7 linked regions of the Homo sapiens genome follow. The protein of the gene in region 3 purifies or fractionates together with the protein of the main gene of each other region. This does not show direct contact. Each region holds a gene or a part of one and is shown on either strand. Other genes may lie near its edges.

What was found.
Region 1: the proteins of RAD18 (region 3) and SLF2 purify together in Homo sapiens (affinity purification with mass spectrometry; 3 studies listed by BioGRID and IntAct, with this or other methods). This does not show direct contact.
Region 2: the proteins of RAD18 (region 3) and POLN purify together in Homo sapiens (affinity purification with western blotting; 2 studies listed by BioGRID). This does not show direct contact.
Region 4: the proteins of RAD18 (region 3) and SPEN purify together in Homo sapiens (affinity purification with mass spectrometry, with the first as the bait; one large-scale study listed by BioGRID). This does not show direct contact.
Region 5: the proteins of RAD18 (region 3) and SPRTN purify together in Homo sapiens (affinity purification with western blotting; 2 studies listed by BioGRID, with this or other methods). This does not show direct contact.
Region 6: the proteins of RAD18 (region 3) and WRNIP1 purify together in Homo sapiens (affinity purification with western blotting; 2 studies listed by BioGRID). This does not show direct contact.
Region 7: the proteins of RAD18 (region 3) and PPP1CB purify together in Homo sapiens (affinity purification with mass spectrometry, with the first as the bait; 2 studies listed by BioGRID). This does not show direct contact.

What each region holds. Positions count from the first base shown.
Region 1 is NC_000010.11:100,919,463-100,922,962, reverse strand, and holds part of SLF2 (SMC5-SMC6 complex localization factor protein 2), read right to left. Parts: intron 1-3,500. UniProt on the Homo sapiens protein: Plays a role in the DNA damage response (DDR) pathway by regulating postreplication repair of UV-damaged DNA and genomic stability maintenance.
Region 2 is NC_000004.12:2,207,622-2,211,121, forward strand, and holds part of POLN (DNA polymerase nu), read right to left. Parts: intron 867-3,500; coding exon 366-866; intron 1-365. UniProt on the Homo sapiens protein: DNA polymerase with very low fidelity that catalyzes considerable misincorporation by inserting dTTP opposite a G template, and dGTP opposite a T template. Is the least accurate of the DNA polymerase A family (i.e. POLG, POLN and POLQ).
Region 3 is NC_000003.12:8,956,973-8,960,472, forward strand, and holds part of RAD18 (E3 ubiquitin-protein ligase RAD18), read right to left. Parts: intron 2,030-3,500; coding exon 1,948-2,029; intron 1-1,947. UniProt on the Homo sapiens protein: E3 ubiquitin-protein ligase involved in postreplication repair of UV-damaged DNA. Postreplication repair functions in gap-filling of a daughter strand on replication of damaged DNA.
Region 4 is NC_000001.11:15,931,207-15,934,706, forward strand, and holds part of SPEN (msx2-interacting protein), read left to right. Parts: coding exon 1-3,500. UniProt on the Homo sapiens protein: May serve as a nuclear matrix platform that organizes and integrates transcriptional responses. In osteoblasts, supports transcription activation: synergizes with RUNX2 to enhance FGFR2-mediated activation of the osteocalcin FGF-responsive element (OCFRE).
Region 5 is NC_000001.11:231,351,793-231,355,292, forward strand, and holds the end of SPRTN (DNA-dependent metalloprotease SPRTN), read left to right. Parts: exon of another isoform or gene 1-817; coding exon 818-1,569; 3' UTR 1,570-3,231; downstream 3,232-3,500. UniProt on the Homo sapiens protein: DNA-dependent metalloendopeptidase that mediates the proteolytic cleavage of covalent DNA-protein cross-links (DPCs) during DNA synthesis, thereby playing a key role in maintaining genomic integrity.
Region 6 is NC_000006.12:2,775,393-2,778,892, reverse strand, and holds part of WRNIP1 (ATPase WRNIP1), read right to left. Parts: intron 1-3,500. UniProt on the Homo sapiens protein: Functions as a modulator of initiation or reinitiation events during DNA polymerase delta-mediated DNA synthesis. In the presence of ATP, stimulation of DNA polymerase delta-mediated DNA synthesis is decreased.
Region 7 is NC_000002.12:28,775,830-28,779,329, reverse strand, and holds part of PPP1CB (serine/threonine-protein phosphatase PP1-beta catalytic subunit), read right to left. Parts: intron 2,480-3,500; coding exon 2,348-2,479; intron 522-2,347; coding exon 291-521; intron 1-290. UniProt on the Homo sapiens protein: Protein phosphatase that associates with over 200 regulatory proteins to form highly specific holoenzymes which dephosphorylate hundreds of biological targets.

The sequences.
Region 1 (3,500 bases), on a different chromosome or scaffold from region 3:
CTCTACTGAAAATACAAAAATTAGCCAGGCATGGTGGTGCGTGCCTGTACTCCCAGCTACTTGGGAGGCCAAGACAGGAGAATCGCTTGAACCTGGGAGGTGGTGGTTGCACTGAGCCAAGACGGCACCACTGCACGCCAGTCTGGGCAACAGAGCAAGACTCCGTTTCAAAAAAAAAAAAAAAAATTCACTTTAACCTGGTGCAGTGGTGTGTGCCTATATAGTCCCAGCTACTCAGGAGGCTGAGGTGGGAAGATAACTTGAGCCCAGGAGTTCAAGACCAGCCTAGGTACCAAAGCAAGACTTCAACTCAAAAAAACAAAACAACAACAAAAAAAAACACAAAAAATTCACTATTTGTGCAATCAGTATTCCCCAAACCAGATTTCCCTAAATCAAATTTTCTGCACATGGACAGATGTCTCCATTCCCCAAGAGTTGCTTTAAAAACCTAAAATGGCTGGGCACAGTGGCTCATGCCTGTAATACCACAACTTTGGGAGGCCAAGGTGGGAGTTCGTGAGCTCAGGTGAAACCCTGCCTCTGCGAAAAGTACAACCCCGTCAATCCCTTCTCTAGTTAGAAAATTTCTTATCTTTTGGCCATGTCTAGTGGCTCATGCCTGTAATCCCAGCACTTTGGGAGGATCACTTGGGCTCAGGAGTTTGAGACCAGCCTAGGCAACATGGTGAAATAGTCTCTACAAAAAATACAAAAATTAGCCGGGTGCAGTGGCATGTGCCTGTAGTCCCACCTACTTGGAGGCTCAGGTGGGAGGACTGCTTGAGCCCCGTGAGGCTACAGTGAGCTGTAATTGTGCCATTGCACTCCAGCCTGGGCACCAGAGTAAGACCTTGAATCAAAATGAGTAAATAAAATAAAATAAACCCGCCAAAACCAAACTTGAGAGGCAATTATTATTTGGATAGCTTGATCAATATATAATCTGAAAAATTCAATTTATAAAAATTAAATTAACTAATTAACAAATGCCCTTATCTCTGCTCTTTTACAGATATCTCCCATTACCTGAGGAAATCATTCCATCCTATTCAGTTTTCTGGGGTTAAATGTCTTACAAAAAGGACAGGGGTAACAGGATGAGAAATTAAATGACTAAACAAAAGAGAAGATTTGGCTCATTATCTTACTTTTAAGTATGGGATTACAAAAAATGAGCTACAGAGCTGCCAGTTTGAGTTTTGTTCCATTTTTCTAGAGAAGTCAGATAATTTAAATATAGCTAGAAATGAGGAGAAATTCCTGCTTTGCTCAGGCATTATTCAGGGTTGATCCAGGAGGAGACAAACACTGTTTGTGGAAGATGTTTAGGATAAGTCAGCTTATTAAGGGGTTTCATCATCTAGAATTAGAGAAAAGTGAATTGGTACTGCAGGTAGGATCCCCTTTAGCAAGCTCTTCAGGTCAGGTGATTAATTGCAAAATGTTCATAATTCTTTTTGTATCCTTTGTCAGCCTGTAGAGAATATTTGTTTTACAGTTTTTCAAATATTTCAAATATACTAATACATAAAATATTCATATAAGAGAGAGATTGAGTTTGTAAAAAGAAAAAAAGGAGGCTGGGCATGGTGGCTCACGCCCGTAATCCCAGCACTTTGGGAGGCTGAGGCAGGAGGATTGCTTCAGCCCAGGAGTTCAGTGCTGCAAGTGAGCTACAATCTCACCACTGCACTCCAGCCTAGGAGACAGTGAGACTCCATCTCAAGAAAAAGGAAAAATCCAAAGGCCATTAATAGGTGATTGGTTATTAATCAGTTACGAAATGTACTAGCAATGGATTAAATTTCCCCTCACAATTCAGCCAAAAGACAGGGCTCTAGAAGACCAAAGGGCTAAATGCCTAGTCTAACATTACTTCTGAAATCCCTGAACTTGTATGTGATTAATGATTGCGTGATTATGTACATTACCATGACAATTGATTAAGTGTATTAACAAGATGAACAAGACATATCATTTGGATTTTTATTTTTATTTATTTATTTTTTTCGAGATTGAGTCCTGCTCTGACACCCAGGCTGGAGTGCAGTGGCACCATCTCAGCTCACTGCAACCTCCACCTTCCAGGTTCAAGCAATTTTCCTGCCTTGGCCTCCTGAGTAGCTGGGATTACAGGCTTGGGCACCATGCCCAGCTAATTTTTGTAATTTTAGTAGAGACGAGGTCTCACCATGTTGGCCAGGCTGGTCTCGAACTCCTGACCTCAGGTGATCCATCTGCCTTGGCCTCCCAAAGTGCTGGGATTACAGGCATGAACCACTGCGCCTGGCTTAGATTTTTAATAATTTTGCTATCAGACACAATAAGCATTCTTCATGCTATCTAGATTGAAATATCCCCTTGTCCTTTACATGTTGAAATTCTGTTGATGTTAGTCAATTGAAGTATAAATGTATATTTATTAAGAGTATAATGCTATAATTATTAGTGATTATGAAACACATGCAAAAATATTGGTAATAAAAATATAAGTGACGGCAACCATCATAAGTCAGCCTCTGAAAATATGTAGAAAGCATCTTTTCCAAGCAGTACTCAAAAACTTTGCTAGGTGGGATTATATAAATGAAACTACTTTAGCCACCATGAATGAAATTTGCAAATCCAGGAAATGAAAAGATTTTTTCAAATCTTAAGTCAGAGAAAAAAGAAAAGGAATAATGTGGTAGCCACACCACCAGCAGCAGCCCCTTATATAAAATAATATTTTGTTCTTCCATTAACTTTGGTGCAAGGTGATCATGTATTTAGTATTAAAAATGTGCAATACAGTGAGTGCAGAAGCAATCTCCTGGCTGAGAAATTCCTGTTCTTCTACAATAATGTCAAAATTCACTAAAATTTGGTCATAAAATCAGCAACATTATAAAAATTAAATAAACAAAAAACACACAAAACTTTAGATTTATTCCTGTATCCTAGAAGTTCCTTCTATAATGGTAAAATATGGTTTCAGCCTTGGCTGAAGATTGATTTTACCAGTTGAGAGTTCTTGGTCAAAATGCAATGCACCTCTAAAATATAAATAAAATGAAGTAGATGAAACCTGAAGGAGGAATTAGAACTGACTCTCTGTACTTTGGCTTTTCCATCTCTAAAAGTAAACCACTATCATATAAAGTTATGAGGTTCAAACGAATTAGAAGCACATAAAATGGCATAGCACACAGTAAGTACTCAATGAAAGCCAGCTATTATTATCGTGTCCAATGTATCTTACTGAATGTGGGAATTTGTTTTTCAAAATGTATAGTCACATCAGGAAAAAAATCGGATACACTAGACTATTAACTGTTGTTAGTTGTGGAGACCTTTCATTTCTTGTTGCAAACTTCTGCAGTGTTTGCCTTTTTAATCTTCTATTTTCTAGTTTTAAAAAAAGATAAAATGTACTGAATTAACAGATTTGTTATTTTATATTTTTTTCAATCAATAAATGCTAAAAGTACAAACTAATGTCATGTAGATATCCTTGA
Region 2 (3,500 bases), on a different chromosome or scaffold from region 3:
ACATGAAAAGATGCTCAATGTCACTAGATAATAGGGAAATACAATTTAAAACCACTATGAAATACCACTTCGGAATCACTGGAATGGCTAAAAAAACAGACAACAACATGTGTTGACAAGGAGGTGGAGAATTTGAAACCCTAGTACACTGCTGGTGGAAGGTAAAATGGTACACCCACTCTGGAAAACAGTTTTACAGTTTCCTAAGAAACTGATGGGAGCATACATTGTCAATCACTTACCACTGGAGGGGAAGGAAAGCCTTAAAATCTTGTTTCTAGCTCTCCTATCAAAATCTGACACTAAGAAAATGGGCTTCTTTTATGGTGTCAAGACAGCAAATAAAAACATCACTGTTTACTAACCTGGTCAGCTCCTAGCTGGGTGGAACCATCAGTATACATCACAGTTATCACCAGGGCTGCTGCCTGTTTGAGCATTTCAATCAGCTGGCTTTTTGCCCAATCATCCAAATGCCTAATATCACAAAAATGTTTTTTCAATGCTCCTGAGTTCCCAGAATTTAGGTAGCCTTCGGCGTCATCAGTATCTTCTTCCAATGCCATTTGTTTACTTGTTTTCTCTGACAAATTATTATATGTAATATGTTTTCTTTTAAGATTAATGCTTCCTTTATTTTCATTATTTATATTCTCCATTAGGAAATGCTTTCTTTTATGCCCCTTTTTCTGTAGAACTGAAGCCTCTTGATTATACTGTGGAATTAAACAACTTGAAAGAGTCAATGAGCTGATGCTCTTCTGTTTTTGGTCAGCAGACAGCTGATCTGTGAGCCTGACACTGAAGGACTGAGGAGACAGCTTGGCAGAACCTCTTGATGTCTGACTTCTTAAAGATTTAAGATCCTACAGAAAAATGGAAAATATTTCATTAGAATATGGACTCATAAGACAGATCTATAAACTAAACTAATTTCTGGTAAAAACTTGTCTAAGGTAATATGGAGACACAATCTTCATATTACCTATGATCAAACCTTCTAAGGAAACCCTATAGTGTCTTCTAGAGCAGTGATTTTTCTCAACCAAGGTAGGCATGCATATCTGGATCAAGAGCTCAAAAACCAGCCAGGCGTGGTGGCTCACGCCTGTAATCCCAGCACTTTGGGAGGCCGAGGTGGGTGGATCACTTGAGGTCAGGAATTCGAGATGAGTCTGGCCAACATGGTGAAACTTCATCTTACTAAAAATACAAAAATTAGCTGGCATGGTGGCAGGCGCTTGTAATTCCAGCTACTCGGGAGGCTGAGGCAGGAGAATCACTTGAATTCAGGAGGTGGAGGCTGAAGTGAGCTGGGATTGCACCATTGCACTCCAGCTTGGGTGACAAGAGCGAAACTCTGTCTCGAAAAAAAAGCTCAAAAGCCTCCAACTGGCCCCTGTTCTGGGAATCAGTGCATGTAATGAGACATGTCATGGATAGGATTATGTTGCATATGTGCATAAGAGAGAAGATTAATAATTTACAACTTCCAAGTAAAAGCCATTTGCAGAGAAAAATGAAATCACCAAAACTATTTAACAATATGTTAATCTATCTACTGAAAAAATGTTTTTGGGCCAGGTGCAGTGGCTCACACCTGTAATCCCAATACTTTGGGAGGCTGAGGCTGGCGGATCACAAGGTCAACAGTTCGAGACCATCCTGACCAACATGGAGAAACCTCGTCTCTACTAAGAATACAAAAATTAGTTGGGCATGGTGGAGCATGCCTGTAATCCCAGCTACTCAGGAGGCTGAGGCAGAGAATCGCTTGAACCTGGAAGGTGGAGGTTGCAGTGAGCTGAGATCATGCCATTGCACTCCAGCTTGGGCGACAGAGCAAGACTCCGTCTCAGAAAAAAAAAAAAAAAAAAAAATTAAACCCAGCTCAATAGCAGTTCTCTCATTCCATCAATGTGCAATATGCATTCATAGATCCACAAACTAATCAAGGTGGGGAAAGCAATCCTATCCATTTCATTATAGGACTTATTTACGATAACACTTTATTTTTAAGGTTTCTTTCCTTTTCCTTTTTTTTTTTTTTTTTTTTTTGAGACAGGGTCTTGTTCTGTTGCCCAGGCTGAAGTGCAGTGGCACAATCTCAGCTCACTGCAACTTCCATGTCCCCGGCTCAAGTAATCCTCCCACCTCAGCCTCCCATGTAGCTGTGACTACAGGGGTTCACCACCATATCCAGCGAATTTTTCTATTTTTAGTAGAGATGGGGTTTCACCATGTTCCCCAGGCAGGTCTCAAACTCCTGGACTCAAGCAATCTGCCCGCCTTGGCCTCCCAAAGTGCTGGGATTACAGGTGTGAGCCAACATACCCAGCCAAGGCTTATTTTCAAATTTACTTTATATATATATATAAATTTACTTTATATATATATATATATGGCTTTGAATAACTATATTAACATTACCTTTAAAATAATTTTGAAAGAAAATGTTTTAACACTTGGTCACATGTTATGAAAATTTTAAATTTATACTTGTATTTTTATTGCAGAGAAATATATGGTTTCCAAGAGTAGGCTTTCAAGCATAAAATTACATTAAAAATTCCATGGAGGAGTAAACAAGAAAAGGAATTCAAGGAGAAAAAGAAAAATATAAAATTTCAAACTGTTGAAGATCTTACTCTGTCTTTTTTAAGGGGATGATTGTGGGCTGGGCACAGTGGCTCATACCTGTAATCCTGGCACTTTGGGAGGCTGAGGCAGGAGGACTGCTTGAGCCCAGGAGTTCAAGACCAGCCTGGGCAAAATAGCAAAACCCTGTCCTTTTACAAAGAATACAAAAATTAGCTGGGCATGGTGTCATGTGCCTACGGTCCCAGCTACTCAGGAGGCTGAGGTGGGAGGATCACCTGAGCCCAGGAGGTCAAGGCTACAGTGAGCCGTGGTCACACCACACTGCACTTCAGCCTGTGCGACAGAGTGAGAAAGTCTCAAAATAATAATAATAATAATAATAATAATAATAATAATAATAATAATAATAAAAAAAAGAGGCCGGGCATGGTGGCTCACGCCTGTAATCCCACTATTTTGGGAGGCCCGGGCAGATGGATCACGAGGTCAGGAGTTCAAGACCAGCCTGGCCAATATGGTGAAAACCTGTCTGTACTAAAAATAAAAAAATTAGCCGGGCATGATGGCATGCACCTGTAACCCCAGCTGCTTGGGAGGCTGAGGCAGGAGAATCGCTTAAACCCAGGAGACGGAGGTTGCAGTGAGCCGAGATCGCGCCACTGCACTCCTGCCTTGGTGACAGAGACTCCATCTCAAAACATAATAAATAAATAAATAAATAAATAAATAAATAAATAAATAAAATAGTCCAGGCACGGTGGCTCATGCCTTTAATCCCAACATTTTGGGGGGCTGAGGCAGGCAGATCACCAGAGGTCAGGAGTTCGAGACTAGCCTGGCCAACATGGTGAAACCCCATCTCTATTAAAAACACAAAAATTAGCTGGGTGTGGTGGTGG
Region 3 (3,500 bases):
ATAAAGGCATATAGATCAGAAAGGAATGAGTAAAACTGTCTTTATCCACAAATGACATGATTGTGTATGCAAAAATTTCTAAGGAATCAACAAAAAAGATGCTGGAATTAAAGTGAATTTACTGCAGTCAGAAGACGAAAGGTCAATATAAGTTATATTTCTTTGTGCAAGGTCTGTGCAATGAAAATCAAACAACACTGTTGAGAGAAATAAAGATAGAGAAGTGTATCATATTCATACACTGAAGACTCGGCATTGTTAAGATGTCAATTCTCCCAAATTGATCTCTAGATTCAATACAATTCCAGTGAACATCCCAGCAGGCTTTTGGTAGAAATTGACAACCTGATTTTAAGTTATACATGGAAATGCATTTAAAATGCAACGATCCTAAAAAAAACGAAGAAAAAAAAGTTGGAGGACTTACAATGCCTGACTTCAAGACTTACTACAAAGCCACAGTAATCAAGATAGTGTGGTACTGGCACAAGGATAGACATATATGAGTCTAGCATATAAGCATTTTAAAATATTGTACCTTGAGGTATTTACTGCAATAGGGGTTATCCTATCATTGTTCAGGAGTTAGACAAACAGTTTACAGATTATTTAGGTTCATGCTCTTTCCTGTTCTCTATTTTCAAGTTGATTTATCTTGGAAAGCTAAAGCAACAGTAAACTTAGGCCTAAACAATTGGTTTTAGTGGGCAGTAGTTTTGGTGAAAAACTACTAAGTTTCTAAGATCAATGGAATAGAAGAGTCCAGAAATAGACTACAGATGGCTAGCTGAGGTCATACTGACTGAGATGGGGAGAAATTTATCAGATAATGAAAATGTTCAGTATCTTAATTGCAGTAGTAACACAGCATACACATTTGTCAAAATTCATGAACACTTTTATACCTTAATGTGCACTTAAAATGGATGTATTTTATTGTATGTAAATTACACCCAAATAAAGATGATGTTAAAATATATTTTAAAACAATCTCCAAAACTTATCTTGGTTTTTAATGTGAATCTTGTCTGGAAGAAAACTAACATTGTTAAGGACTCATAATGTGCCGGACAGTGAGTTCTGCACATTTAATTCTCACAAACATTTTCTAAAGTAGTAAATTCTCACCCGATTTTCAAGAGTCAAGCCCAAGGGCATCTGCAATGCCCGTGCTGCCGTCACTGCTACCCTCTTACTATGTCTTCTCCACAGAAACTTTTCCACCAAAGCTACTACCAACTAAAACCAATTTCTTAGGCCTAAGTTGACTGTTTTTAACTTTCCAAGATAAATCAACTTGAAAATAGAGGACAAGAAAGATCATGAACCTGAATAACCCATAAACTGTATGTCTAGCTCCTCAACAATGATAGGGTAACCCCTATGCACTAAATATCTTAAGGTACGATATTTTTAAATGCTTATATACTAGACTCTTAAAGAGAAGTACAAACAAATTCCAACATGAGTCTTTCCAGCGTCACATAGCAGTTAAGGTATAAAACTGTCTGTAATAAAGTCAGTGGTAGAATTCTCCCACTGGGGCAATATTCTTATTGTTACAGATTTTTAAACTTTGAAATTCTATATCAAGTACTACTTGGTGGAACCACCTATCTGTTATCCTGTTAAAAACAAAAATTCTGAAACTTAACGTCAAAAAACACTTGGCAAATAAAGAACCACTTATTGTGACCAAAAATTTTACTGCCATAAATGCTATAAGAATCATAAAAATATCAAAGAGGAACGAGGTAGAAAATATAGAAGCCTTGTAAAAACCTTCAATATTCAAGAGGAAGGCAGTGAAAAAGACCTTCTGAAAAACTACAAGATAGAAGAGCTAAAGGTGAAACATAAATATGTGCACATATCTTTGGTGTTAAATTAACACTACCTCATGTAAAAATCGCAATTTACTAACTCACAGGAACAAAACATACTTACAGTTATGTGAACACTGAGGTATTATCATTGCAATGTTGAAATACTCGAAGCAAATTCCACACCGCAGCAAATCATCTATTGTCTGAAATGCAAATATGCATATATACATATCAGAAAGACATCAAAATTGGAAGTCCTGTCACAAAACTTTTTCTCTATCCCCTAAAAAAAAAATCAAACTCTTTGTCAAATACACAAATTCAAAAGCTAACTCCAGATAAACTGCAAGGGATCTTGACAAATAAATAAAAACTTCTCTCATATGACTCTTATACATTCAGTCTCAGGTTGCCCAAATTGCTTTAGACAGCTAAAGATGATGGCACACCGATTCTTGTGCCATATTGTCATCCCTTCACATAAGGGCTACTGTACTTCTGTTCCACTTCTAATGCGCTTCCAGCTCTTACTCCAAGCCTCCTCCTCTTCAGACTCCAACACCTAGCCTATAGTCACTATTGGGTGAAAGGTGGCCATTGCCACCACACAAGTTAAGAATCAAATCAAAGAATGTTAAAGCCAAACTCCAGAAACTGTCTAGTCAAAAGAGGAAACTGGTATCAAAAGCAGGCACACAATAGTAGGCATCAGTCAAGCCAAGACCAAAATTCCTGTCTCCCGTCTGGCAGTCCAGTGCTTTCGGCATGGTACTACACATGCAGCCAAATGAGGAAGCCTGGAAAGAGCTGGGGCAGTGAAAGCAGAGGAAGGGAAAGTGGACAACTTGGAAAGAGAGATGTGTGCCAACCTGGAATGCAATCCAAACAGGAACGGAACTACTCTGGCAACCTAAAATCTTTCAAATTGTTTAAAATAAAATATTATTCCATTCAACAGAAATATTTTTTAAAAGGAGGAAGCTCTCGACGGGAGGATCGCTTGAGTCCAGGAGGCGTAGGTTGCAGTGAGCCCACATCGCACCACTATACTCCAGCCTGCATGACCGAGTGAAACTGTCTCAAAAAAAAAAAAAAAAAAGAGGAAGCTCTCCATCATACTGATATGAAAAGATTGCCAAGATAAGTGAAAAAAGGAAATAAGGTATAGACAGTACATATACTATGCTACGGTTTGTTTAAAAGGAAGAGGTGAGTAAGAATGTATTCTAATAGGCCTAGCATGGTGGCTCTGTAATCCTAGCACTTTGGGAGGCCAAGGCAGGAGAACTGCTTGAGTCCAGGAGTTTGAGACCAGCCTGGCAAAATAACAAAAATCCATGTCTATAAAAAATTTAAAAATTCGTTGGGAGTAGTGGCGCATGCCTGTAGTCCCAGCTACTCAGGAGGCTGAGGCGGAAGGATTGCTTTAGCCCAGGAGTTCAAGGCTGCAGTGAGCCGTGATTGCCACTGCATTCCAGTCTGGGCGACAGTGAGACCCTATCTCAAAAAAGAAAAAAAGGAAAAAAGAATGCATTCTATTTTCATTGTAAATGTAAATAATGAGAAGATAAACAAGAAGTCATAAATAATGATCAGGGCCAGGAACATGGTAAGAAGGAGACTTTTACTTTTTATTTTATGTGTATTTTGAACCATGTGAACCTATTACCTGAA
Region 4 (3,500 bases), on a different chromosome or scaffold from region 3:
AGACCACTGGTGACAAAACGGTAGAGGCGCCTTTGGTAACAGAAGAGAAGACTGTGGAGCCAGCTACCGTCTCAGAAGAAGCAAAGCCTGCATCTGAACCTGCTCCTGCCCCTGTGGAACAGCTGGAACAAGTAGACCTGCCCCCAGGAGCAGACCCCGATAAAGAAGCTGCCATGATGCCTGCGGGTGTTGAGGAAGGTTCATCAGGTGACCAGCCGCCTTATCTGGATGCCAAGCCTCCAACTCCCGGGGCCTCGTTTTCCCAGGCAGAGAGCAACGTAGATCCAGAGCCTGACAGTACCCAGCCACTTTCAAAACCAGCTCAGAAGTCTGAGGAAGCCAATGAGCCAAAGGCCGAAAAGCCAGACGCCACTGCAGATGCTGAGCCTGATGCAAACCAGAAAGCCGAAGCTGCTCCTGAGTCTCAGCCCCCAGCTTCTGAAGATTTAGAGGTTGATCCTCCAGTTGCTGCAAAGGATAAAAAGCCAAACAAAAGCAAGCGTTCAAAGACCCCTGTTCAGGCAGCTGCAGTGAGTATCGTGGAGAAGCCCGTCACAAGGAAGAGTGAGAGGATAGACCGGGAAAAACTCAAGCGGTCCAATTCTCCTCGGGGAGAAGCACAGAAGCTTTTGGAATTGAAGATGGAGGCAGAGAAGATTACAAGGACTGCTTCTAAAAACTCTGCTGCAGACCTTGAACATCCCGAACCAAGTTTGCCTCTCAGCCGAACAAGGCGCCGGAATGTAAGGAGCGTCTATGCAACCATGGGTGACCATGAAAACCGCTCTCCTGTCAAAGAGCCCGTTGAGCAACCAAGAGTGACCAGAAAGAGATTGGAGCGAGAGCTTCAGGAGGCTGCAGCGGTTCCCACCACCCCTCGGAGGGGAAGGCCTCCAAAGACACGCCGGCGAGCCGATGAAGAGGAGGAGAACGAGGCCAAGGAACCTGCAGAAACACTCAAGCCACCTGAGGGATGGCGGTCGCCAAGGTCCCAGAAAACTGCAGCTGGTGGTGGACCCCAAGGGAAAAAGGGAAAAAATGAACCGAAGGTGGATGCTACACGTCCTGAGGCCACCACTGAGGTGGGCCCCCAAATAGGCGTGAAAGAGAGCTCCATGGAACCCAAGGCTGCTGAGGAGGAGGCAGGGAGTGAACAGAAACGTGACAGAAAAGATGCTGGCACAGACAAAAACCCCCCTGAAACCGCCCCTGTTGAAGTTGTAGAGAAAAAACCGGCCCCTGAAAAAAACTCCAAATCAAAGAGAGGAAGATCTCGAAACTCCAGGTTAGCAGTGGACAAATCTGCAAGTCTGAAAAATGTGGATGCTGCTGTCAGTCCCAGGGGGGCTGCAGCACAGGCAGGGGAGAGGGAATCTGGGGTGGTGGCAGTCTCCCCTGAGAAAAGTGAGAGTCCCCAAAAGGAGGATGGTTTATCATCCCAGTTGAAAAGTGATCCAGTTGATCCAGACAAGGAACCAGAGAAAGAAGACGTGTCTGCCTCTGGGCCGTCCCCAGAAGCCACCCAGTTAGCCAAGCAGATGGAGCTGGAGCAGGCCGTGGAACACATCGCAAAGCTCGCTGAGGCCTCTGCCTCTGCTGCCTATAAGGCAGATGCACCAGAGGGCCTTGCCCCAGAGGACAGGGACAAGCCTGCACACCAAGCAAGTGAAACAGAGCTGGCTGCGGCCATCGGCTCCATCATCAATGACATTTCTGGGGAGCCAGAAAACTTCCCAGCACCTCCACCTTATCCTGGAGAATCCCAGACAGATCTGCAACCCCCCGCAGGTGCACAGGCGCTGCAGCCTTCTGAGGAAGGAATGGAGACAGATGAGGCTGTATCTGGCATCCTGGAAACTGAGGCTGCTACAGAATCTTCTAGGCCTCCAGTCAATGCTCCTGACCCCTCAGCCGGCCCAACAGATACCAAGGAAGCCAGAGGAAATAGCAGTGAAACCTCACACTCAGTGCCAGAAGCCAAAGGGTCTAAAGAAGTGGAAGTCACTCTTGTTCGGAAAGACAAAGGGCGCCAGAAAACAACCCGATCACGCCGCAAGCGAAACACAAACAAGAAAGTGGTGGCTCCTGTAGAGAGCCATGTCCCTGAATCCAACCAAGCTCAAGGTGAGAGTCCTGCTGCAAATGAGGGGACAACAGTACAGCACCCCGAAGCCCCACAGGAAGAAAAGCAGAGTGAGAAACCCCATTCCACTCCTCCTCAGTCATGTACTTCTGACCTAAGCAAGATTCCCTCCACAGAGAATTCGTCCCAAGAAATCAGTGTTGAGGAAAGGACTCCAACCAAAGCATCTGTGCCCCCAGACCTTCCCCCACCTCCCCAGCCAGCACCGGTGGATGAGGAGCCTCAAGCCAGGTTCAGGGTGCATTCCATCATTGAAAGTGACCCGGTGACCCCACCCAGCGATCCAAGCATCCCCATACCCACACTGCCTTCTGTAACTGCAGCAAAGCTCTCACCTCCTGTCGCCTCTGGGGGGATCCCACACCAGAGCCCCCCTACTAAGGTGACAGAGTGGATCACAAGGCAGGAGGAGCCACGGGCTCAGTCTACTCCATCTCCAGCTCTTCCCCCAGACACAAAGGCCTCTGATGTTGACACCAGCTCCAGCACCCTGAGGAAGATTCTCATGGACCCCAAGTATGTGTCTGCCACAAGTGTCACTTCCACAAGTGTCACCACAGCCATTGCAGAGCCTGTCAGTGCTGCCCCTTGCCTACATGAGGCCCCGCCCCCGCCAGTTGACTCTAAAAAGCCTTTAGAAGAAAAAACAGCACCTCCAGTGACAAACAACTCTGAGATACAAGCCTCGGAGGTGCTGGTAGCTGCTGACAAGGAAAAGGTGGCTCCAGTCATTGCTCCCAAAATTACCTCTGTTATTAGCCGGATGCCTGTCAGCATTGACCTGGAAAATTCACAGAAGATAACCTTGGCAAAACCAGCTCCTCAAACCCTCACTGGTCTGGTGAGCGCACTCACTGGCCTGGTGAACGTCTCCCTGGTCCCGGTGAATGCCCTGAAAGGCCCCGTGAAGGGCTCAGTGACCACACTGAAAAGTTTGGTGAGCACCCCTGCTGGGCCCGTGAACGTCCTGAAAGGGCCTGTGAATGTTCTTACGGGGCCAGTGAATGTTCTCACCACTCCAGTGAACGCCACGGTGGGCACAGTGAATGCCGCCCCAGGCACAGTCAATGCCGCTGCGAGTGCAGTGAATGCCACAGCAAGTGCAGTGACCGTCACAGCGGGTGCGGTTACTGCTGCATCTGGTGGTGTAACGGCCACAACAGGCACGGTGACAATGGCAGGGGCAGTGATTGCGCCGTCAACAAAGTGCAAACAGAGAGCGAGTGCTAATGAAAACAGTCGGTTCCACCCAGGGTCCATGCCTGTGATCGACGATCGTCCGGCAGACGCGGGCTCAGGGGCGGGGCTGCGTGTGAACACTTCTGAAGGGGTTGTGCTCCTGAGTTACTCAGGGCAG
Region 5 (3,500 bases), on a different chromosome or scaffold from region 3:
ATGGATATTTTTATTTTTATTAACTTTTTTCAGTTTCTTTTTATTCAAAGAAACAAAATTCAATCTCTGATAATATTTGAGGTAAAGTTCCTTTCCCTATCTTGACTCACTGAGTTATTAGGAAACAGAAGGCAAAAAGATTGTCAAAATAAAAACAATAATTCAAGTAACAATGCCCGGAATATACGTCCTAACTACACCCCTTCCTATCAGCTGGATTCTATCCAAGTGACTCTATTGATGTATGTATGTTCATTCAAAGAATGGGAAAAGGATATGACATATATTTGCCAGTACTTCATCTTCAAGATTTACCCTTTTCCTGTGAAGTTCAGAGTTACTGAAGATGCTTCTTCCCTTGGGAAGTTGTTGACCCAAGAACATAGGTTATATTTCCCAAATCTTTAATTATTGAGTGAAAGAGCTATAGATGAATTGATATGGAAAGACCGTATCTTCATTTTCGTGAGTAGAAGGAAAGATAAGAATGAGGCAGCAGATTTTCCCTCCTGGAATTACACATAAAGGACACTAAGCAATTTTCAAGGTAAATGTTGCCTTGTTGTTGGTCTTTGGCATGATAAGATTCTTTATTTAAATATGAGAGAATTTTTTTTTATCCTTTATATTCTCTCAATATCAGAACTCCTGAATTCTGAAGATTGCCCTCCTCCCATTAATAGGATTGTATGGATGTAAGATGGAATAAAATACTAGTTCTTCATTTTGAGAAAACTGTACATTAGTTTAATGTTTGTTACTGTATTTCTTTTGAGTTGAGGCACTTACATAACAATCTTCTTTGCTTTTTTGGCAGATAAACCCAACAGAGGTGAGGCCCAGCTAGTAATCCCTTTTAGTGGGAAAGGATATGTTCTAGGAGAAACAAGCAATTTACCTTCACCTGGGAAACTGATCACTTCACATGCCATTAATAAAACCCAAGATCTTTTAAATCAAAACCATTCAGCAAATGCTGTAAGACCTAATTCTAAAATCAAGGTGAAATTTGAACAGAATGGTTCAAGTAAAAATTCTCATCTGGTCTCCCCTGCTGTTAGTAACAGTCACCAAAATGTTCTAAGCAACTACTTTCCTAGAGTATCATTTGCCAACCAAAAGGCTTTCAGAGGTGTGAATGGATCTCCAAGGATAAGTGTAACAGTTGGCAACATCCCTAAAAACTCAGTCTCTTCTAGTTCTCAGAGAAGGGTTTCATCTTCTAAGATATCCCTAAGAAATTCTTCAAAAGTAACGGAATCAGCATCTGTGATGCCATCCCAGGATGTGAGTGGGTCTGAAGATACATTCCCAAATAAACGACCTAGGCTAGAAGATAAGACTGTTTTTGACAATTTTTTTATCAAGAAAGAGCAAATAAAAAGCAGTGGTAATGATCCAAAGTATAGTACAACCACAGCTCAGAATTCCAGCAGTTCATCCAGTCAGAGCAAAATGGTTAATTGCCCAGTTTGTCAGAATGAAGTTCTGGAGTCTCAGATTAATGAGCACTTGGACTGGTGCCTTGAAGGTGACAGCATCAAAGTCAAAAGCGAAGAAAGTCTTTGAAAAAGGTTTCAAAGTCTCAAGTACCACCTGTATTATCTCACTAATGTGCTATGTCAGCCAGTCAGGAAGTTCTGGTTAATACTAAGATTTGTAGGTTATAATCTAGTTCACATAACCAATAGAAAGTGTCCTATTTTATATATACGCATATAAGATTGTAATTTTAAGATGTTTTGTGTCTCAGGGTGCTACATTCACTCTTGCCTTAGGTATACTGTAACCCAGGTTCTGCCTGTCGTGTATAAGTTTTAGATACTTTTGTTCTTTCTTGCTCTTAAGGATTTTAAAAACCTGTTAATCTTTTTATTTGTATACTTTCCTAAAAATATTCATATGGGGAATCCTGTCAGGTGTTTGGTTATATTGACTATTTATTAATAGTATTAGAACTCATTCCCTGAACTGATGTAAATCTTCATAGTGTCAGACATACTGACCAAAACCACAATCTAGACTACAAAGTATATTGTTTTAGAGTACTCAAATTGTATTATTTATTAATTTTTTTGTTTGCAAAATCTTAACAGGAACTGTATTTTCTATATTTTAAAGAATTTTATTTGTCCCACTTTTACTAAACAGTGGCAGCAGATTTTAAGTTAAAGAATATGGAATATAGTAAAATAAGTAAATTTCTTTTGGAATATTTTTAGTAACAAATAGCCACTATAATTCTGTAGGCCAAATTTTATATTGAGTTTAGCTGTTTTCTCAAAATTTAGCAGAGTGGTTAAAATTCTGTGCTGATAAGTAACTGATACATATAACATAAACATAACAAAGTTGCCTAGTTGATGTAACAGTGGAAAGTTATCTGGAAATAGTATTTTGAACTTTAAGCCAAGTTTAAAACATTATAATAAAAGGAATACCATTTGTGCATTTTAAGTAATCTTTTTTAAAAAAAATATTTTCCATGTTATAGGGAAAGGACAAAGAGACTTTTATCAGTTTGCTTTTTGTCTTGTGGCTGTACATGCTGTTGGCATAGCCCTAACACAGTTGTTCACAAGTTTTCTTTTTTCTTGTTGCAATTTTCCTTCACTTTGTTGTAATACAGGTGCACAAATCTTAAGTGCACAGCTGGGTAAACTTTTACAGTGTTCACCTGTGTAACTACCACCCGGATCAAGTTAGAGAACACTTCCATTGCCACAGAAGGCTTCCTATAGGTGTCTGTTCCCAGTTGATACCCATGACCCTCACCACCTCCAGAGGTCCCCACTGTTTTCACCCCATCGTCGCAGATTATTTTTTAATTTTATAATGTAGTATCTTTGTTCCTATGTATAGCAGGAGTTCATTTTCATTGCTCTTGCATTTGTATGAATATACTAGAATTTATTCATCCATTCTAATGTTAATGGACATTTGAATTATTTCCAGTTTGGGGCTGTTAAGCATAATGCTGCTAAGAACATTCTTATCTTTTCTGTTGGGTATATATACAGGAATGGAATTGCTGAGTCACGGGGTATATTTCTGTTTAGCTTTAGTAAATTCTGCCAGTTTACACTCCTACCAGCAATGTATGAGAGTTTTAGTTGTTCACCATTCATAACACTGTTAGCAGCCCTTTTCGTTTTAGACTGGTTGGCTGTTCACAAATTTTGATATTCCTTAAAGCATTAAAACATTTTAATAAATACTTATAAATAGGTATTAAAATGTATATTATGTTCAATATATAGTTATATTTTCATAGAGGATCATTTCTCTAAATGAATGTAACAAATTATGTGTAATTAAATGCTTCCTGAGCCAAAACCACACAAGGTTCTGGGGCTGTGAAGTAGCTGAGATGGTCCATGTCCTCAAGGAGCTTTACAGCATAGTTGGGGAGTAAGACAAATGCACATTAATCTCCTTAGAGTTTGCTAAGTGCTATGACAAGGGTTTTTGCTGGGTGCTGTGGGTAAACTGTAGGAAGA
Region 6 (3,500 bases), on a different chromosome or scaffold from region 3:
TATGGAAAACATGTTCCAAATGCAGCCTACATCCGATGAGACAGATGTGCTTAGACCACTTTCCACACAGGGGAGAGTCAGCATTATATCTGAATATTAGCTCTGAAGGGCTCCAGATCATGCAGTTCAATTCCTTCATTTTAAAAACAACAAATTGGGTCCCTAGTTACTCTGAGCACAGCAGGTCCTAGAAGCAGGTCTCAGGATTCTCTTGGCCTGGGGAATCTTGGGATGCTGCAGTAGGTCATCTCATAGTGGACACTAATCATGCAAAATCCGCACAGGGTAGCAGAGAGGTCATTAGCCTGGGAAGCGACGAGAAGACTGCTGGTACATAGCCATGAGACCCTGGGTAAGCCACCTAACCTCTCTCTGAACATCAGGACTAAAACTTACAGTCACATTTCTAAATTTGGACCCTCATAAATAAGATCTAACTATGATCAGAAGGCTGACTCAGTAAAATTTTCTATCCCTAGTTGAGTTAAACAAGACATCTAACACATTTCATAACTTAGTGGGGTCTTATTCCTGGCTGAGCTGCTAGCTGCACATTTGTGAAGCAAAAAAATAAAATTTTTCAGTTACAGTTCACCCATGTCATCAACATTCAGCTGAGAACATCTACAGTAAATAATAAGCCCATTAGGACTGTCCGAATCAGCTACCTGGAAAACAATGTACAGGCACCAACGGGGCTGGGCCGGGGAGGGGTGGCAGTTTCCGAAGGGGACCCAGCTTGCCTGCTGGATCAATGCAGAACTCCTCAGCATACACCCACTCACTGACACTACTCTGCTCACTGAGTAACCCAAATAACACCAATCTGCATTTCATTCACGGAAGGATTTGTTCCCAATGCCTTAAAGATGCCTCATCTCACCCCCATATTTACCAAAGTTGATTTCCAGTTATTCCTTGTGGGTCTCTCACCACACCTAAGACAACTGGCCAGCCCCAGCTTTACAACAAATGACTCTCTCCTCACTCATGCCAACTGCCTGGGCCCCAGAGCCAGTGGTGCAGCCTGGAGACCCATCTTCCTCTCTCCTGATGGTAGCATTCTCTCAGCAGACCTCACCAGAACAACAAAAAAACAAACACCGAGGCCATGTCACTGGCACTCTATAAAGCCTGGGGATCACTGCTCAACCAGAAATTAGTTAGCAAGTCTTCTGGAAGATGATTTAGAAGATAATGATGGACAGAACATATACTAAAGAAAATGTATGGGGAAGGACCAGCATCACAGGGGTGTAGCAGTACGTGACATGCCTGAGAGGGAAGGGTGCACTCTCAGCCCCTTACTGCACTCAACCTGTGTGGGAAGACAGGTAGGGAGAACAGAAACTGCTTGGGCATCTCATTTCTGCCTCAGAACTAGTAAAAACAATGGATTCTCTCTCCTTGGAAAGCTGCCTAGCAACAAAAAGCCTTCAGGACAATTGAGGGAAGAAAAAGGAGTCAAAGCAGGAGCCCCATTGGATCCTAACGGACTGAACTAGCCTATATCCTGCACCATGGGTTGGATTGTGTGTTGATTACATTACATTCATCATCCCTACTATGCGGAGCACCTCAAGGAGAGGAATATTTTATTCTTTGTATTCCCAGACCTGGTAGATGATAGGCATCCAATATTTGCAAAATGAATGGACTAACTTCAGTTTTATCATAATCTCAGAGTGAAACCTTTACTTCTTATAAATTATATGGAAAGTATAGAGAAAACAAAAAGAATCCATATTTCCAGCACTGAGAGATAAAAATGTACTTGATATTTCCAGCAGAATGAAAGCTACTGTGCCAAGTGCTGACTTTACGATCCACTCACCCATGCAACCATCAACCTTACAGCTAACCTAAAACAAAAACTGGGACCATATTTTACATAGTTTTACATCCTTAACCATTAAATAATTGTTTGAAAAACAAGCTACTCAGACCTGTCAACATTTACTTTAAAAAAATTTACATTAAATTTTAAAAATAGACAAAGGGAGAAAATTCACCTTCTGCTAGACTACCTTGACGTTAGTATTTTGGTATGTATCCCTTCTCCATGAATTTGTCTTTTGTATGTATTTAGGGGCATGGCATGCTCTTTGGACAGTGACGAGATGGGCAGCCTTATATACCATGGTATTTACTAGTATAAACTGCCTCATTTCCATTAGTCCTCATATACAGACAGGGAGGCAGGCCTTATTAATTAGGACAGAAGCCAGCTAGCCGTCTACTCCATTGATTTATCAACAGTATGCTGTGAATAAGTCTTTAGCAATGATTATGTATTTTATGTGGTTGGAAAATAAGGTCTTCCTTTGGCTTTTAAACTCCTGACCAAAGTACAAGTGGTTCCACACTTCTGGTTTGGAGTCATGGGGAATGGAGGTGCTGCCACAACGAAAGCTACCTGAGCTCGCGCCACTCCCTTCTTCTTCCTCCCCTTGGGTATAATCCACATTTTAAATTTCACCCCGTCCAAAAGAAGAAAGTATTTCGAGGCCCAGATCAATCTGTCGGCAACTCTGTCCAAGTAATACAGGACCTGCTGACAGCACTCACAATGATCACACAAGAAAATTACAAAATGGAGATTCACTGTGAAGACGACTGAGCAGGGAAAGGTTCCACTTAAACACCCAATATATCTTGAACTCCCATTTACTAAGTTCTGAAGAACGAAGTAAGATATACTAAAATACCCTGAGATCTTAGAATGGGAAGCCCATGAGAGAACTCATGCCAAGAATGATGAAGGGATAGTTGTATTGATATTGGCAAAATCCCTCAGCAAACTGCGGCACAAACTATTTTGAAAGAGTGTTCCCAGTCTAGAGAATTTACAATTATTTTTAAATTTAAGCATATATTAAAATTAAGCATATATTTATAAAGTGTTTTGCACTTAAAAATAACCTTCCAAAGGTAGAATACAATAAAAAGAGGTAAAATCTATTCTGGGGATAGACTGCCCAAAATGTCATAACATCCTACATGGAAATAAACAATAGGAAGTAAATTATGTTGTTATAATAAAACACTATTTATAATAAGGGAAAATTGGTTAAAATAAATGCATTGGAAAAGATTCTATTTCTAGTTAACAAAACCTAGAGATAGAAACAGACTTAAGAGAGCTTGGCTTCTCCAACTGATGAGAAGGGCTTTAATTTTAACAGAAGAATATAGGAAGCTCTCTTCTTTCCTCTTCCAGGTGCCTAAATCCTGAAGCTTTCTACACATTGGGTAATACTGGAATTTGGAGGATACTACTTAGACAGCTGGATATGTAAGTTGGAGAAGGAGTGCAGTAAGTAAAAATGTACCTGTTATTTCAAGGCAGAATGAAAGAATATGCATGGCTTGGTTAAACTCTCCCTCTCTAAATTACAAACCAAACCCCACAAATCTCTTCCACTAAGGAAAAGGAACATTTCATGGTCAGGGTGATAACTGCTGTGTAGAAGTTTCAACCAGGGATATGCATCAAGTTA
Region 7 (3,500 bases), on a different chromosome or scaffold from region 3:
GCCACTGCCTACAGTGACTTCTGTTTCACCTGGATAGTTTACTAGATAAACTAATTTTAAAAGAGCCTCTTCAGCCAAGTAAGCTGCAGTCAATCTGAAATATGACCAAGGAGATCTCAAGGAACCAATTTAATTAGTAACATGTTTCCCAGTTTCAGGTTCCTCTTCCTGGCCTATGCCTGACAGATCTTATTTTGAAAAAACTCTGAATCAAAGCAACTCTTCTGAACCAGAAAATTATTAGGCAATGTTTCCATGAATTACTTTTCTAAGTCTTTATTTTCACTTACATTCATCATAGAATCCATAAATGCGATTGATGCTAGCACACTCATGGTTTCCTCTTAAGAGAAAGAAGTTCTCTGGATATTTGATTTTATAAGCCAATAGCAAACAAATGGTTTCCAAAGACTGCTTTCCTCTGTCCACATAATCTCCTAAGAAAAGATAGTTGGCTTCTGGTGGGAAACCTCCATATTCAAATAATCTCAGTAAATCTGTATATTGTCCATGAATATCTCCTAAAAAGAGAAAGAGTCAGTTTTAGAAAAATTGGTTACTGTTATAAGCAGCTTCTATGAAATGATTCCCAATGTTCACATCCTGTGTAATCCTCCCCTACCCTTGAGTATGGGCTATATTTGGTGACTTACTTCTAATAAGCGAAAGTGAGATGGGCTGTCACTTCCAAGATTAAGTTACAAAAGACTGTGACTTTCATCTTGCTTGCACTCTCTCACCTTCTTCCATGCTCGCTGATGAAACCAGCTGTCTAATGAAGCATCCCACGTAGCAAAGAACTGAGGGAGGCCTCTGACCAACAGCTCATTTGGAACTGAGGCTCTTAGTCCATCAGTCTATAAGGAACTGAATCCTTTCACAGTTCAACCTTCAGATGACTGCAGCCCGAGATCACGCCTTAATTGGAGCCTTGTGAGAGACCCAGAGCCAGAGGACCCACTAAGCTGTTCCTGAATTCCTGACCCACAGAAATTGTGAGATGGTAAATTAATGTTGCTGTAAGCCACAAAGTTTTGGAATGATTTATTATACAACAATAGGTAACTAAAACAATTTTATTATCTGGTAGTTTAACTTACGTCACTTTTTAACACCAAATATGGAGACAAATAGTAAACCTTTAGAAATATGTAGTACAAATAACTTCCATTACCTTCAAGTTATTTCTATATTACATTTTAAAGAACACCTTCAAAGAATACTTTAATTCTAATAATTTTAAGATCACCTCTAAGTAACTACATTTGCTTAAGTTTATACAGGGGATTGATTAGTTCCCCCAAATTCTGAACTACTACCTCTTACTTGAAGGTGTGATATTCTAAGTTAACTGATCCATTCAACAAACATTTATTGGCCAGCTGCGGTGGCTCATGCCTATAATCCCAGCATTTTGGGAGGCCAAGACAGGTGGATCACCTGAGGTCAGGAATTCAGAACCAGCCTGGCCAACATGGAGAAACCCTGTCTCTACTAAAAATACAAAAAGTCAGCTAGACGTGGTGGCTCACACCTGTAATCCCAGCTACTCAGGAGTCTGAGGCAGGAGAACCACTTGAGCCCGGGAGGTGGAGGTTGCAGTGAGCCAAGATTGTGCCATTGTACTCCAGCCTGGGCAACAAGAGTGAAACTCTGTCTCAAAGAAAAACCAACCAAACAAACAAAAAACAAACATTTACTTAGCGAGTATCTCTTATTTGCTGGGCACTGTACAAAGGACTGTAAAAAAGTCACTGTAAAACTTAAAAGAATACAAGGTATAAAGTAGTATAATCTTCAAAACAAATTTAAATAACATCAAAGTTAGAAGACCACAGATATCGCCATATTGACCCTCTAAATTATACACCTATTTTTTTCTAACCAGTGTACTATGATGCCCTTTTCGTGACATCCTTGACAACACTAAACATCAATCTTTGGTATTTTTTTATAATCTGACTAGAGTTGGAGACTTGCTTTAAATTGCACATCACTGATTACTAAAAAAAGAAGCTGACGTCCTTATGTTTACTGGCCATTTGAATTTCTTCTAAGACCTTCCTCTTCCTATGTTATTTTTATACTGTATCGCCTTTCTCTTATTTATAAGAACTCTTTATATATTATAAATAGAACTCCTTTTATCTGTTGATATATAGCAAGTATTTTCATCTTGTCTGTAACTTGTCATTTTTATAAGTTTCAATTTTTATACACTTTTATTTAGTAAAGCCTACTGATCTGTTTTATACAAAAATTTCAAAAAATGTTTTCTCTAGATCTTAAACATGGGAGGAAAAACATGATTCAAAAGAGTTGTTTCCAACTTTACCCATTTACATACCACAAATTTTCAGCGGTGCTTCCAATTCCAAAAGAATAGGCTGGCTGAGAAAGATCTCCCGAGACTTGATACATAAGCCTCGAACTTCTGCTTCAGTCATCTGCACAATCTTTCCTGGACGACATCCTCGTACTGACAAACGATAAATAAAACAGTCAGTTTTCTAAAATTTACTCATAATAATCTTTCAAAAAGAGTCATGCCCATACTTTAAAAATCAGAAAAGTCACACAGGCAGCAAATTACCCTATTTGGTCCCATGGTTTAAAATAATGTTATTCTATGATCTCTGACTTCTATTTTCATTGTTACTGGTTCCTGATGATGCTCCTCAAGTCTGCTGTTGATGAAATGCAGTCCTGTTTTTTGCTGTCCTGTGACCAACCTGGGGCCTAGTAGCCAAAGAGACTTAAAAGATTTCAGGGCCGGGCACGGTGGCTCATGCCTGTAATCCCAGCACCTTGGGAGGTTGAGGTGGGTGGATCACCTGAGGTCGGGAGTTCAAAACCAGCTTGATCAACATGGAGAAACCCCATCTCTCCAAAAATACAAAATTAGCCAGGTGTGGTGGCGCATGCCTGTAATCCCAGCTAATTGGGAGGCTGAGTTAGGAGAATCGCTTGAACCCGGGGGCAGAGGTTGCAGTGAGCTGAGATCGCCCCATTGCACTCCAGCCTGGGCAACAAGAGCGAGACTCCGTCTCAAATAAAAAAAAAACAAACAAACAGAAAAAAAACAACAACAAAAAAAACACACACAAAAAAACATTTCAGAGCCCGCACCCTTTAAGGTCTGGCCTGCTTATCTCGCATCTAGTAGGATGTCAAAACAGCCTCATTAAGAACAATGTGCTATGAAGAAAGGGAGATTAAATAGTAATTGTCAGTAGGTGATTTAGCTTCACACACTTTCTTGGAATGTTACCAGCAGTCCCCAAAATTTTAGCAACTCCTATCTCTACTTTCTGATCAAAAGAAATACAAAAAAGATATCAGCTATGTATTAAAAATTAACTTATCGTTACATTCCCAATAGATCATTATATTAAAACCTCTAAAGGCTATTTAGATGGAGTGAGGCATCTTTGCATTACTGAGCCATAAGATAATATGGTTTCCAGTAACTTGTGGGATGAAGGGGAACAGAATGTTGC